2 separate regions of the Homo sapiens genome follow, and region 2 is linked to region 1. Evidence: fine-mapped expression QTL. Tissue or cell type: visceral fat. Region 1 holds a variant in brackets; the other region holds the start of a gene. All regions are shown on one strand. Distances are from middle to middle.

The links. PIP is the estimated chance that this variant, and not a neighbour inherited with it, causes the effect.
Region 2: it holds the start of PWWP3B, and the variant in region 1 is fine-mapped to the expression of PWWP3B in visceral fat (GTEx, PIP above 0.99).

What each region holds. Positions count from the first base shown.
Region 1 is chrX:106,230,280-106,238,705 of GRCh38, forward strand. No RefSeq gene overlaps it. Among named protein-coding and RNA genes, the nearest start is that of PWWP3B, 66 kb to the left of the region's middle. The variant G/A (reference allele first, on the strand shown) is at 3,451.
Region 2 is chrX:106,164,102-106,172,370 of GRCh38, forward strand. PWWP3B (PWWP domain containing 3B) reads left to right here and starts at 4,204. Exons shown (of 4, transcript NM_001171020.2): 1 at 4,204-4,324; 2 at 6,911-7,038.

The DNA of each region.
Region 1 (8,426 bases):
TTCAGGAGTGTGTTGTTTAATTTCCAGATATTTTTGAATTTCCCAGTCTTCCTCCTGTTACTGATTTGTAGTTTCATACTATTGTGCTCAAAAAAGATGCTTGATATGATTTCATTTTTCTTACATTTGTTAAGACATGTTTTGTTGCTAACATATGATCTATCCTGGAGAATGTTGCATGTGCACTTGAGAAGAATGTGTATTCTGCCGCAGTTGGATGGGATATTCTGTATATCTCTGTGTTAGGTCTATTTGTTCTAAAGTGTGGTTTAAGTCCAATGTTTCCTTATTGTTTTTCCGTCTGGATAATCTGTTCATTGCTGAAAGTCATGCATTAAAAACAACTATCCCATGATCATCTCAATAGGCTCAGAAAATGCATTTGACAAAATCCAGCATCTCTTTATGAATAAATCCTTCAGCAAGACTGGCATAGAAGGGACATACCTTAAGGTGATAAAAGCCATCTATGACAAACCCACAGCCAACATTATACTGAATGGGGAAAGTTGAGAAGATTCCCCCTGAGAACTAGAACACGACAAGGATGCCCACTTTCACCACTTCTATTCTGCATAGTACTGGAAGTACTCATCAGATCAATCAGACAAGAGAAAGAAATAAAAAGCATCTAAATCAGTAAAGAGAACATCAAACTATTGCTGTTTGTCAATGACATGATTGTATATCTAGAAAACCTTAAAGACTCATCCAAAAAGCTCCTAGAACTGGAAAATGAATTCAGCAAAGTTTCAGAATACAAAATTAATGTACACAAATCGGTAGCTCCGCTACATACCAACAGCGACTAAGCTGAGAATCAAATCAAGAACTCAACCCCTTTCACGTAGCTGTAAAAAAAAATTGAAGTTAAAATACTTAGGAATATACCTAATCAAGGAGGTGAAAGACCTCTACAAGAAAACTACAAAAAACTGCTGAAAGGAATCATAGATAACACAAGCAAATGAAAACATATCCCGTGTTCATGGATGGGTAGAATCAATATTGTGAAAATGACCACACTGCCAAAAGCAATCTACAAATTCAAGGCAATTCTCATCAAAATGCCACTGTTATTCTTCACAGAACTAGAAAAACAGTTCTAAAATTCATATGGAACCAAAAAAGAGCCCACATAGCCAAAGCAAGACTAAGCAAAAAGAACAAATATGGAGGCATTGCGTTACCCAACTTCAGACTATACTATAAGGCTATAGTCACCAAAACAGAATGCTACAGGTATAAAAAAAATAGGCACATAGACCAATGGAACAGAATAGAGAACGCAGAAATAAAGCCAAATACTTAACAGCCAAATGATCTCTGAAGAAGCAAACAAAAACTTAAAATGGGGGAAAGGACACCCTATTCAACAAATAGTGCTGGGATAATTGGCAAGCCACCTGTAAAAGAACGAAACTGGGTCCTCATCTCTCACCTTATGCAAAACATCAACTCAAGATGGATCAAAGACATAAATCTAAGACCTAAAACCATCTAGATTCTAGTACAGAAGACAGCATCAGGAAAATATTTCCAGACATTGACTTAGGCAAAGACTTCATGACCAAGAACTCAAACGCAAATGCAAAAAAAAAAAGGTAAATAGATAGGACTTAATTAAACTAAGACGCTTCTGAACAGCAAAAGCAATAATCAGCAGAGTTAACAAACAACCCATCAAGGGGGAGAAAATCTTCACAATCTATATATCCGAAAAAGAACTAATATTCTGAATCTACAAATAACTCAAATCAGCAAGAAAAAAGCAAACAACCCCCTCAAAATGTGGGCTAAGGACGTGAATAGACAATTCCCAAAAGAAGATATACAAATGGCCAAAAGCATACGGAAAAAATGTGCAACATCACTAATTATCAGGGAAATGCAAATCAAAAGCACAATGCAATACCACCTTACTTTATATTTATGTTATACTTTATAAATATAATATATGTAATATATGCTATATATTATATATAACAATATAATTATAATATAATATTTTTACAATATAATTATAATATAATATATTATATTATATAATATATAATTATATCATATATAATTATATAATATATAATATAATATAATATATATAATATATAATTATATAGTATATAATATTATATAATATATATAATATATAATATACTATAGTATAATATATATAATGTATAATTATATAATATATAATATACTATAATATAATATATATAATATATAATTATATAATATATAATATTTACATATTATATATTATATAATTATATTTATATTATATATTATATAATTATATATTACATTTATATATTATAGAAATATAATATAAATATAAATATAATATATTAGATATATTTATATATAATATATAGTATATATTAGAAATATTTATATATAATATATAGTATATATTAGATATTATATTTATATATAACATATAGTATATATTAGATATTATATTTATATATAACATATAGTATATATTAGATATTATATTTATATATAACATATAGTATATGTTAGATATATTTGTCTCTAACATATAGTATATGTTAGATATATTTGTCTCTAACATATAGTATATGTTAGATATATTTGTCTCTAACATATAGTATATGTTAGATATATTTGTCTCTAACATATAGTATATGTTAGATATATTTGTCTCTAACATATAGTATATGTTAGATATATTTGTCTCTAACATATAGTATATGTTAGATATTATATTTTGTATCTAATATATAGTACATGTTAGATATTATATTTATATGTAATATATAGTATATGTTAGGTATTAAATTTATATGTAATATATAGTCTATATTACATATAAATATACTATATATTATATAAAATATATAATATATACTATATATATTATATATTATAGTATAATATATAATATATATAAAGTATAATATATATTATATACTATATATTATAATATAAATGATATATATATTTTATATAATATATAATATAGATTATATATTGTAATATAATATAAATGGTATATGATATGTTACATATTATAATTATGTATAATATGTAATATAATATATAATTTAATTTATATATAATATACAGTTTATTAGATTATATATACTATTTAATATAATATGTATTATTAATATATTAATAATATGTATTATGTTAAATAGTACATATAATGCATTGTAGTATATATTGTAACATATAAAATATTACATATATATAAGCTGACTATAAGGAATAGGCTTATCTGCAGCATGCAAGCTAGAGACCTAGGAAAGCCAACTATATAGTGCTAGTTCTAATCCCAAGGCATGAGAATCAGAAGACCTGATATTGTAAGTTCTATTTCAAGTCCAGAGAAGGAGACTGGTGTCCCAGCCTGAGGTAGTAAGGCAGAAAGAGAGATAATTCTTTCATACACAGACTATTATTCCATTTAGTTCTTCA[G/A]TTGATAAGAGGAAGCCCACCCACATCAGGGAGGGCAATCTGCTTTATTCAGTCTATCAATTCAAATGTTGATTTTATCCACAAACACACCTATAAATAACGTTTAACCAAATATATGGCACCTCATGGCCCATTCAAGTTGACAAATAAATTTAACCATCAAAATATTTAAGATTATCTTCTTTAAATTTACGTTTTGGAGGCTCTGCCACCCTTGTCCTTTTAATGCTGAACAGAACTCTTAAATTAATAAAAATTTTGGGGGAGATTTTCCCTGAATGTAAGGAAATAGGAGTTGGAAAATGACATAACCTATCAACACCACTGGGATATAGCAAACACGGTGCTAAGAGGAAAGTTCATAGTCCTAAATGCCTACGTCAGAAAGAAAGACTGAAAGAGTACAAACTGACATTCTAAGGTCACACCTCAAGGAACTAGAGAATCAAGAACAAACCAAACCCAAACCCATCAGAAGAAAAGAAATAACCAAGAGCAGAGCAGAACTAAATACAATTGAAACAAACAAACAAATACAAAAGATAAATGAAGCAAAAAGCTAGTTGTTTGAAAAGATAAAGAAAATTGATAGATCATTAGCAAGATTAACCAAGAAAAGAAGAGAGAAAATCCAAATAACCTCAGTAAGAAACAAAGCGGGAGATATTACAACTGACACCACAGAAATACAAAAGATCATTCAGGGCCACTGTCAACACCTTTATGCACATAAACTAAAAAACCTAGAAGAAATGGATAAATTTCTGGAAAAATACAACCCTCCTACCTTAACTCAGGAAGAATTAGATACCCTGAACAGACCAATAACAAGCAGCCAGACTGAAATGGTAATTTAAAAATGACCAACAAGAACAAAAAAAAGTCCAGGACCAGACAGATTCACAGCACAATTCTACCAGACATTCAAACAATAATTGGTACCAATCCTACTGACACTATTCCACAAGATAGAGAAATAGGGAACACTCCCTAATTCATTCCATGAAGCCAGCATCACCCTAATACCAAAACTAGAAAGGGACATAACCAAAAAAGAAAACTACAGACCCATATCCCTGATGAACATAAATGCTAAAATCCTTAACAAAATACTAGCTAACCAAATTCAACAACATATGAAAAAGGTAATCCACCATGATCAAGTGGGTTTCATACCAGGGATGCAGGGATGGTTTAACACATGTAAGTCAATAAATGTGATACACCACACAAACAGAATTAAAAACAAAAATCACGTGATCATCTTAATAGATGCAGAAAAAGCATTCGACAAAATCCAGCATCCCTTTATGATTAAAACTCTCAGCAAAATCGGCATACAAAGGACATGCTTCTGTTGCGGGAAGTCAGGGACCCCAAATGGAGGGATTGGCTGAAGCCACAGTAGAAGAACATAAGTTGTGAAGATTTCATGGATGTTTATCACTTCCCTAATAATATTCTTATAATTTCTTATTCCTGTCTTACTTTAAATTCTTAATCCTGTTATCTTTGTAAGCTGAGGATGTACGTCACTTCAGGACCCTGCGATAATTGTGTTAACTGTACAAATTGATCATAAAACATGTGTGTTTGAACAATATGAAATCAGTGTACCTTGAAAATGAATAGAATAACAGCGATTTTAGGGAACAAGGGAAGACAACCATAAGGTCTGACTGCCTGAGGGGTCAGGCAAAAAGAGTCACATTTTTCTTCTTGCAGAGAGCCTATAAACATATGTGCAAGTAGGAGAGATACTGCTAAATTCTTTTCTTAGCAAGGAATATAATATTAAGACCCTAGGAAAAGAATTGCATTCCTGGGGGGAGGTCTATAAATGGCCGCTCTGGGAGTGTCTGTCCTATGCGGTTGCGATAAGGACTGAGATATGCCCTGGTCTCCTGCAGTACCCTCAGGCTTACTAGGATTGGGAAACCCCAGCCCTGGTAAATTTGAGGTCAGACCGGTTCTCTGCTCTCGAACCCTGTTTTCTGTTAAGATGTTTATCAAGATAATACGTGCACCACTGAACATAGACCCTTATCAAGAGTTTCTGATTTCGCCCTGGTCCTGTTTCCTCAGAAGTATGTGATCTTTGCTCTGCCTTTTGCCCCTTGAAGCATGTGACCTACTCCCTGTTCGTACACCCCCTCCCCTTTTGAAATTCCTAATAAAAACTTGCTGGTTTTGCAGCTCAGGTGGACATCATGGACCTACCGATATGTGATGTCACCCCCGGCAGCCCCGCTGTAAAATTCCTCTCTTTGTGCTCTTTCTCTTTATTTCTCATACTGGCTCACACTTAGGGAAAATAGAAAGGACCTATGTTGAAATATTGGGGGCAGGTTCCCCCGATACACTTCAATGTAATAAAAGCTATCTATGACAAACCCACAGCCAACATAACGCTGAATGGGGAAAAATTAAAAGCATTCCCTCTGAGAACTCGAACAAGACAAGGACGCCCACTCTCACCACTCCTCTTCAACATAGTACTGGAAGTCCTAGCCAGAGCAATCAAAGAAGAGAAAGAAATAAAAGGCATCCAAATCAGTAAAGAGGAAGTCAAACTGTCACTGTTTGCTGACGATATGATAGGTTACCTCAAAAACCCTAAGACTCCTCCAGAAAGCTCCTAGAACTGATAAAACAATTGAGCAAAGTTTCTGGATACAAGAATAATGTACACAAATCAGTAGCTCTTCTATGCACTAACAGGGACCAAGCAGAGAATCAAATCAAGAACTCAACCCCTTTTACAATAACTTCAAAAAAGATTAAAATACTTAAGAATATACTTAACCAAGGAGGTGAAAGACCTCTACAAGGAAAACTACAAAACACTGCTGAAAGAAATCATAGATGACACAAACAAATGGAAACACATCCTATGCTCATGAATGGGTGGAATCAATATTGTGAAAATGACCATAAGCCAAAAACTATCTACAAATTCAATGCAATCCCCATTAAAATACCATCATCATTCTTCACAGAATTAGAAAAAAAATTTTTAAGTTCATATGGAACCAAAAAAAGCCCACATAGCTAAAGCAAAACTAAGCAAAAAGAACAAATCTAGAGGCATCACACTACCTGATTTAAAACTATACTATAAGCCCATAGTCACCAAAACAGCCTGGTACTGGTATAAAAACAGGCAGAGAGACCAATGGAACAGAATAGAGGACCCAGAAATAAGCCCAAATACTTACAGCCAACTGATCTTTGACAAAGCAATCAAAAACATAAAAAAGGGAAAGGACACCCTTTTCAACAAATGGTGCTGGGATAATTGGCTAGCCACATGTAGGAGAATGAAACTGGATCCTCATCTTTCACCTTATACAAAAATCAACTCAAGATGGATTGAGGACTTAAATCTAAGACCTGAAACTATAAAAATTATAGAAGATAACATTGGAAAAACCCTTCTAGACATTGGCTTAGGCAAGGATTTCATGACCAATAACTCAAAAGCAAATGCAATAGAAGCAAAGATAAATAGCTGAGACTTAATTAAGCTAAAGAGCTTTTGCATGGCAAAAGGAACAGGCAGCAGAATAAACAGACAACCCACAGAGTGGGACAGAATTTTCATAATCTATATATATGACAAAGGAATAATATTCTGAATCTACAATGAACTCAAACAAATCAGCAAAAAAAAATCTTATCAAAAAGTGGACTAAGGACACAATAGACAATCCTGTAAAGAAGATATACAAGTGGCCAACAAATATAGGAAAAAATGCTCAACATCACTAATGGTCAGGTAAATGCAAATCAAAACCACAATGTGATACCACCTTACTTCTGCAAGAATGACCATAACCAAAAAATCAAAAAATGGTAGATGTTGGCATGGATGCAGTGATCAGGGAACACTTCTACACTGCTGGTGGGAATGTAAACTAGTACAGCTACTATAGAAAGCAATGTGGAGATTCCTTAAATAACTAAAAGTTGAACTACCGCTTGATCCAGCAATCCCACTACTGAGTATCTACTCAAAGGAAAAGAAGTCATTGTACAGAAAGATACTTGCACACACATGTTTATAGCAGCAAAATTCACAATTGCAAAATTGTGGAACCAACCCAAATGCCTATTGATCAACGAGTGGATAAAGAAACCGTGGTGTATATATACAATGGAATACTACTCAGCCATGAAAAAGAATGAATTAACGGCATTTGTGGTGACCTGGATGAGGTTGGAGACTACTATGCTAAGTGAAGCAACTCGGGAATGGAAAACCAAACATTGTATGCTCTCCCTGATATGTGGGAGGTAAGCTATGAGATTGCAAAGGCATAAGAATGATACAGCAGACTTTGGGGACTTGGGGAGAAGGGTGGGAGGGGGGTGAGGGATAAAAGACTACAAATAGGGTGCAGTGTATACTGCTCATGTGATGGGTGCACCAAATCTCACAAATAACCAGCAAAGAACTTATTCATGTAACCAAACCTATGGAAAAATAAAATAACCAACAACCTATAACCCAATAACCTGTGGAGAAGTAAAAAATAAAAAAGCCAAAAACTAACGGATGCTGGTGAGGTTGTGGAGGAAAGGGAACACATATACATTGTTGGTGGGAGTGTAAATTTGTTCAACCATTATGCAAAGCAGTATGGTGATTCTTTAAAGAGCTAAAAATAGAACTACCATTTGACCAAGAAATCCCATTACCAGATATATACCCAGAGGAATATAAATCATTCTACCATAAAGACACATGCATGTGAATGTTCACTGCAGCACTATTCACAATAGCAAAAACATGGAATCAGCCTCAATGCCCATCAGTGACAGATTGGATAAAGAAAATGTCATACATATACATTATGGAATACTATGCAGCCATTAAACAAAATGAGTTCATGTCTTTTGCAGTAACATGGATAGGGCTGGAGGCTATTATCCTTAGCAAACTAATGCAGGAAGAGAAAACCACATACCACATG
Region 2 (8,269 bases), 66 kb before region 1:
TCATTATTCATTTTAATTTAATCCTCTCTATTGTTCCTAAACTACTCTTATTTAAATTAATGTACCATTATATGTGTATATTTAAACACAGACCCAAATACACACACATAAACACATATCATAGAAAGGTGTAAATATGAGCTTTAAAATACAATTAACCTCTCAACATATTAGTAGATGATACACATACAATATTGATTTTACTGTTTTATTTTGAGCTTTATAAAAATACTTTTATATGTAAGTAAGAATCTAAATAAAAATTGTTAATTGGAATTTGGTATGTTTGATGCTTTGTGTTTATGAATTCTGATTTTCTTAGGAATTGTCCAGATATCCAAAAAAATTTACTCATTATTTTCAAGGTCTCAAAGTCAATTACAGAACTAAGAAATTAAATTTAGGTTGACGTTAAAGAAAAATACACTCACTGTTGGTATTAGAATTTTGGTTTTATGCAAGCCGGGCTCAAAACCTAGGTGATAGTTTGACAGGTGCAGCAAACCACCATGGCACACATTTACCTATGTAACAAACCTGCACATCTTGCACTTGTACCCTTGAACTTAAAACAAAGAATTTTGGCTTTATAATATTACAGTGAAAACACTTACATAGTCCAAATAGAATAACTGTATACCCACATATTTTGTGGCTTTACCTGAAGTTTGAGAGAACCAATCATTTTGCAAAGACATGGCTTACTGTAATTCAGTTTCTCATGATTACCTTAAACATTTAATGAGAGTAACGTTAGCTTACCTGAGCAGTGAAAACAGTATACAGGAAATTTAGCAAGTTCAGCTTAATTAGTCTTTTATGAGAAAATAATCCCAAACCATGCAAATGGTTTGGGAAAGGACAAGTGGGAAGGCTATGTGGGGTGTGAGTGCCATAAAGCAGGGATGTCCACATATATTTTTATCACCATTGTAAAAAAAATTTGACACCTCCCAATTGTTCGATATTTTTATAAAGTATGTAATACATTATAGTATTTATTATGTGCATTTAACATATTTATAAGTAGAAGCTTATAAAATAAATCAAAATGAAAGAAATTGAATTTTAAACATTTACTTTCTATGTCCCACTGGATCATCTGGGTACCCATAGGTCTCTGTGGAGACCATTTCTCTATTACCAATTTAGATATTCCACTCTGCTACTTAACGCACTAGATGGTTCTCTCTTAACCTCTATAATGCTCAGCTTTAGGCAAATAGTGCCAAAACAGTTCCCAAAATGTGAGTTCCAATTTACATTTCTGTAAAAAGTGTATGAACCTTCCAATTGCTCCTTATCCTTACCAATATTTGGTATTTTCAACATTTTATACTTTGGTATGTTTATGTTCTACAACCACTGGTTTTTTTTATTTTTTATTTTTTATTATTTTTATTTTTTTTATTATACTTTAAGTTTTAGGGTACATGTGCACATTGTGCAGGTTAGTTACATATGTATACATGTGCCATGCTGGTGCGCTGCACCCACTAACTCGTCATCTAGCATTAGGTATATCTCCCAATGCTATCCCTCCCCCCTCCCCCCACCCCACAACAGGCCCCAGAGTGTGATATTCCCCTTCCTGTATCCATGTGATCTCATTGTTCAATTCCCACCTATGAGTGAGAATATGCGGTGTTTGGTTTTTTGTTCTTGCGATAGTTTACTGAGAATGATGCTTTCCAATTTCATCCATGTCCCTACAAAGGACATGAACTCATCATTTTTTATGGCTGCATAGTATTCCATGGTGTATATGTGCCACATTTTCTTAATCCAGTCTATCATTGTTGGACATTTGGGTTGGTTCCAAGTCTTTGCTATTGTGAATAATGCCGCAATAAATATACGTGTGCATGTGTCTTTATAGCAGCATGATTTAGAGTTCTTTGGGTATATATCCAGTAATGGGATGGCTGGGTCAAATGGTATTTCTAGTTCTAGACCCCTGAGCAATCGCCACACTGACTTCCACAATGGTTGAACTAGTTTACAGTCCCACCAACAGTGTAAAAGTGTTCCTATTTCTCCACATCCTCTCCAGCACCTGTTGTTTCCTGACTTTTTAATGATTGCCATTCTAAGTGGTGCAACCACTGGTTTTTTAGAGCACTTTTTAATACCAAAGAAAATAAAACTGATGTCAACAATAATAAAAAAGCGACACTTTAGAGTAGAGTCTTTTCATTCTGGATAGCAATGTTTCTCAAGGTCTTGTGACTTTATAGAACACAGTTTATCAGTTCTCTGTTCTTGATGTTGTTATATTTCAATAAACTATTATTCTTAGTATTATGTCCTTGTTACACATTAGCAGAATTTGTCCCACAATTTTGCAGAATGTTTCATGAACAGAAGCGGTTTTTATAGAGCTGCAATACTGAGAAGCTTTGAGCTTTGAAATTATATCAGAGCTTTTGAGATAACTTGCTATTAGAAATCACATGAATAAACAAGTGGGACTACATCAAACTAAAGTTTCTGCACAACAAAGAAAATAATCAACAGAATGAAAAGGTAACCCATGGAATGGGAGAAAATATTTGCAAACCATGCATCCAATAAGGAGTCAATATCCACAATTAGAAACTTATAAAATTAATACCCACAATAAGAAACTTATAAAACTCAATGTCAAGAAAAAACTAGCAAGTAACCTGATTTTAAAAATGAGTAAAAGACACTGGGTAGTTATTTTTTCCAATGAAAATGTGCAAATGGTCAAAAGGTACATGAAAAGGTGACTGTAGTTAATAATATGTAATGTATATTTGAAATTTGCTAAGAAGGTAGATCTAAAGCGTTCTCATCTCACACGAAATGGTAACTATGTGAGGTGATGGATATGTTACCTGGCTTGATTGTGGTAATCATTTCACAGTGTACACATATATCAAATCATCACATTACCCATCTTGAATATATATAATTTTTGTCAATTGTACAAAAAAATCACATTCCAAGACCAAAATAAACAGACATTAATCTGGGAGAGATCAAAGTACTTTGTAGGTAAAAGAGCCTCAGGAGGAGGCACTGACCACCAGTTCCTTTTACTTCTATAAGAGCTAATCAAATTTTTCTTACTTGCCCAATAATGTATTTCTATCCATTTTTGCATTATTATACATTTTGAGGTAATCTCGTGGGTACAAAAAGTTTACAATTGTCATATCTTAAAAATAATGAAGAAAATGTGGTAAAAATAAGTTGAATAGCAGATGAAACCAAAATTGTCAGCTTTATTAAGAGGGGAAGATAAATTGCAGGACTTTGCTTGTGAGAGTGAAATGAGACTAACAGAACTCCAGACTTAAGGAAACCTATCCATCAGCCTAGAAGCATATTTCTCTAGTCTAGAAGACGCAGAGAGCCTTCAAGTTACACTGCTTTGAGATTTCTTCACAGTGAAGTGAATATCAGGAATAGGGAAGGACGTTGGGAATTCTCTGCTTGTGTTCTTTGCCCCTTTCTCTACTTTGTTGTTCATTTCTTTCTTATTGAAATGAAAGAACTAGCTTGGGTATATTTTTGTTTATCTAATCATATGGACAAACAAAAGCACTTGAAAAGCACTCCTAAGTTTGCGGCTGATTTTTTAACTTGGCCTATGGTGATTTTACGCTTAATACATTTTTTTTTTCAATTTCAGTATAATCAGATTTTGTCTGAGGATTTTTCTTTGGAAATGACCTAAGGAAAGAAGTATAAGAAACTTGAATAAAAGGAGAGATATATTATGTCCCAGGTTCAGATTCAAAATTGTAAAGAATTAATTCTACCTAAAATAAAGTATTAATTCACTGTAATCCAAATCAAAATACTTAGCGTATGTTTTTTTGTGAAGTTTGGCCAGTAGGTCTTAAATTTACCAGAAATAAAGTACAAAAGAGGATCAGAAAAAATATATGTAAGGAACGTTTTAACCACATCTTTATTATATGAAAAAGAGATTTGCTGTTGCTTCTCTTTTTCCATTAAAACACCTATCCTAGGGGGTTGAATGGAAATTGAACAGACATAGGTTACCATTACACTTTAAAGTACTTTAAGAGGAACATTTCTTCCCTTTAACTGTATTTCGGTTTAAGTTGGTCATTTTTCTCCTAAGCGAAGGAAGAACCTCGTGCTTTCCCCATCACGGAGAGGGGGCGGAGCATCCTCTAGGAGCTTGGAAGAAAGCTGCGCCCAGCCAGTCTTCGGGGAGGAGCTGCATTACACACAGGCTTCGGAGGCTTCCGTGGAGAAGCTTGGAGGTAATGGCTGTCGTAAATGCTAGTTATTTTCAGAGAGTTCTCGAAGATTTGGAATAAAGGTGAGAAAAGAAGAGAGTGCTGCTTAGGAATAACGGGAAAGGAGTGTCGTTCTGTGAGGGTCGTTGTTTCTGTGAGGGAATTAATATCTGTGTTTTGTGTTCCTTCAGATTATTTTAAAAGTCCACAGTCGGGGAGGTGGTAATCAACATTACACCTGTGGAAAAATATTCTTAAAGAGGTAGCAAAAGCTAACTTTTTAATAGAGCATTTTATGTTTCCATCAAAAGGCAGTGGTGGCTGAGATAAATGATGAAACAAAACTTGGGAGTTTAATCTTCCTTATTTTGAAAAAGGTTGTAATAGTCTTAAATGAAAAATTAAGTTGTTGGGGATGTTGGTTTTTTATATTACTTTGAATGTGTTGTGTTTCTAACAAATCTTACTGTTTTGGTGGAGTATGTTAGTAATTTAAAGTAATGCATAACTGTGCAAATTCGAGTATCTCTGAGAATTAGTTTGGTTATTTGTCAAGGGATACACAATGACTTAATATAATAGCTTTTTAAATAATGTGCAAAATATGATCTTTGTCTGTACTTCTACCTATCTCTCAAGAGAATTGTACATTCCTATTTGTACTGCAATGGAAAAAATCTAAAAGATCATAACAATAACAGACGTGCATTAGTATAATAAAACACAACAAACAATATACTTAGTAATAAAGGATGCCTGATAAAAAAGGATGTCAGGGGAAAAAGGAGGAAATTTTCCACTTCTTTCTTCCACATTTTACTTAGCATGTAGTTTCTATGTCGGCATAGAAACTGAGATGAGAACTTAAAATCATGGGGAAAAGCTACTTTCCCCAAAATAGCGTAAACTCATATATAAACAGGGAAAGGTGTTCAAATATGTGGCTAAATAAATGTAATTTTAAATAGTATATTCAAACATGTATGTGATGAGGAAAAAAATAAAAAGGATTAGACATCAAATGTATGCCGTGAACAACTCAGGGTTTGAGTACTGATGATGTGTATTTTCATCTTTAGATTTTTATGTACTTTTAGATTCTTTTGGAAACGATAATGGAGCTGAAAAGGGAATAATCACTTTTGTTACAGACACTTGAGCAAATAGCCACACACACATTCCATTGTCTTTAGCTGCAGTAGGATTTTTCTATGGGTCTGAGAAGGCTCATTACCTGATTGCTTGTGCTTTTCTTGCAATTCAACTATTGAGGCTATAGTCCAGACTCTGGTTCAAGCAGAACATATTTATCTTTATACTCCTGAGGAATAATTCGTAAAATGTTTTAAACATATTATGACATAGTCATATAGGATAGTATATCTATAATGTTGAATACTACGCAGCTGTAAAAGGAATGAGTTAACTCTAAATGCAATGATTAGAGTAAATGTCCAAGGTAGTTTCTAAAAATAAGCAAATTGAAGAATGGCCTGTATCATGTAATCCTATTTGTTTACCAAAAAGAATGTGCATGCATTCGTACAGTGTATGCAATAAAAACCTGGAAATATACATGCTACTTTATTAATTGGAGAAATCTGGAAATAATACATGCCACTTTATTAATTGGAGATATAAGTGTTCTTATATCTCCACACATATCTCCAATTAATAGACAGAATATTTTAACCTTCTATGTATTACATTTCCCCATTTTAAAAATTTCATTTTGAAAAGAGCAAGCCTGAATAATTTTCATCATGAGAAAAACATAAAATTTTAGAAATGTGGAAAAAATTTTGTAAAGCAATTCACAAAAAGATGATATGGAAAATAATTATTGATATGGAAAGATGTTCAAATATATTACTGGAGGAATAAAGGGTCTAGTTTCAAAAAGCTTCCACATTGGTAAGTCTCTACAGAAAAAAATCTAGAAATATACAGAGCAAACCATTACATTTTGACCATTGTTGTGGAGATTTCCTTTCTTCTTTGGAAATCCAAAAGATGTAGAAAGATATATACAATTTGCATGAGAGATATTATGATGAAAAATATTAAAATGAGAACATTATGATCCCATTTTTGTATAACACATGCACAGAACTCTTAAACTGAGAATGAAAAATTCTAGAAGCCTGAGTGTCTGCAGTTCTGGTTCTGGTCACAAGATGGTGCTTGCCAGGTTTACTAAGCTTTGTCCAGGCAAATATTTTTATGAAGTGGACAAAGCAATGAAATATGTTTTGTATTAGCCGACTATGAGACAGCATGTAGAGTGTGATTGAAATTCCATTCAAAATATTATAAATATCTAGAAGAAAAATCCCCACCAATAACTGACATGAAGACTCACACAGAAATCATAAAAAATGCTGCTACATAGAGTCTGGCCCATAGTAGAAACAAGTCAATTGTTCTTTCCCTTCTCTCTTTTCTCCACCTCATAATTTTCCTGAAGGATATGATTTTAGCATGAACGAAATAACATAACTGACCCAGAGAGCATTTCATATTATAATAACATGAAGGAAAATAGATGGCATCTACATCACAGATGAGATTTTGCCTCATTCCTGTGTTTTGGAATGACAGCCTGTTAGAGTTTAGGTAGGGAAATTTATTTACACCTTTTCCATTTCATTGGTTTGATTCCCTGCCAGCCGAGCCCCAGAAAGACAGGTCAACCACAGAAGTGCTGAGCCAGGTAAAGACCCTGCTGGACAAGCAGCTGGAGTGAGAATCAAGACAGCTGGACCACAGGACCAGACCCAGCAGTATCCATGTAACAGTGAGTAAGACTCTTCCCATTTCACAAAACATTTCACGGTATAAACATGTTGAGAACTTGGAGAACAATGTATTTTGCTTCCGGCTCTACAGTCATCATAGCATTTTAAATTAAAAGCCACATTTCATGTAAGGATTATGTTAGGTTGAGAATTTGGGGTGTACTTCATTTTGTTTCCTGTTCTACAGCTATCATGTTTGTAATTAAAAGTCATAACTTCTAGTTTTTGGAAAGAATCCATATATTATACCACTATGAAGAAATCATGCAAGAGGCTATGCAGGTGTCTCCCTGAGGCCTGACTCTGTAGTCCTTGACAACTATACTAGGTTGTCATACCATAAACTAGATAACATAGTTATAAAGGTTTCTTAGAACCTGCTTAAGGTCTTATGACCTTCTTGAATCACCTGTACAGTCATGCATGGCTTAACGATGGGGACATATTCTGAGAAATGCTTCAATAGGCGATTTTATCTGAGAACATTATAGAGTGTACTTGCACGAACTTAGATGGTATAGCCTACTACACACTTAGGCTATATGGTATAGCCTACTACACACTTAGGCTATATGGTATAGCCTATTGCTCCTATACCACAAACCTGTATACCATGTTACTGTACTGAATACTATAAGCAGTTGCAACACAACTGCCTACAGTGGTGAATACTGAATACTGTAGGCAGTTGCAACACAACTGCCTACAACATGGTGCTGTTGTCTCCTAGAATAACAATGCCCTTTTCTGGAATACCTCCTGAAAGACCTGCTCTGTGCCTATTTTACGATTAACATTTTTTTTTCTAAGTTGAAGGAATATACTAAAATAAGATTAAAAAGTATAGTAAGTACATAAACCAATAACAGTCATTTATTATCATTATAATAGTATTTGTATATCCAAACATATCTAAATATAGAGAAGTTACAGTAAAAATATGACATAAAAGACAAAAAATGGTATACCTGTATAGGGGAATTACCATGAATGGAGCTTGCAGGACTGGAAGTTACTTTGGGTAAGTCAGTGAGTGAGTGGTGAGTGAAAGTGAAGGCCTAGAATATTATGTATACTACTGTAGCTTGAACACTTAGGCTACACTAAATTTATAAAAAAAAATATTTTTTTAATAATAAATTAACCTTAGCTTATGGTAACATTTTACTTTATAAATGTTTAAATTTTTAAATCTTTTAACACTTTTGTAATAATACCTTAAAGCACTAA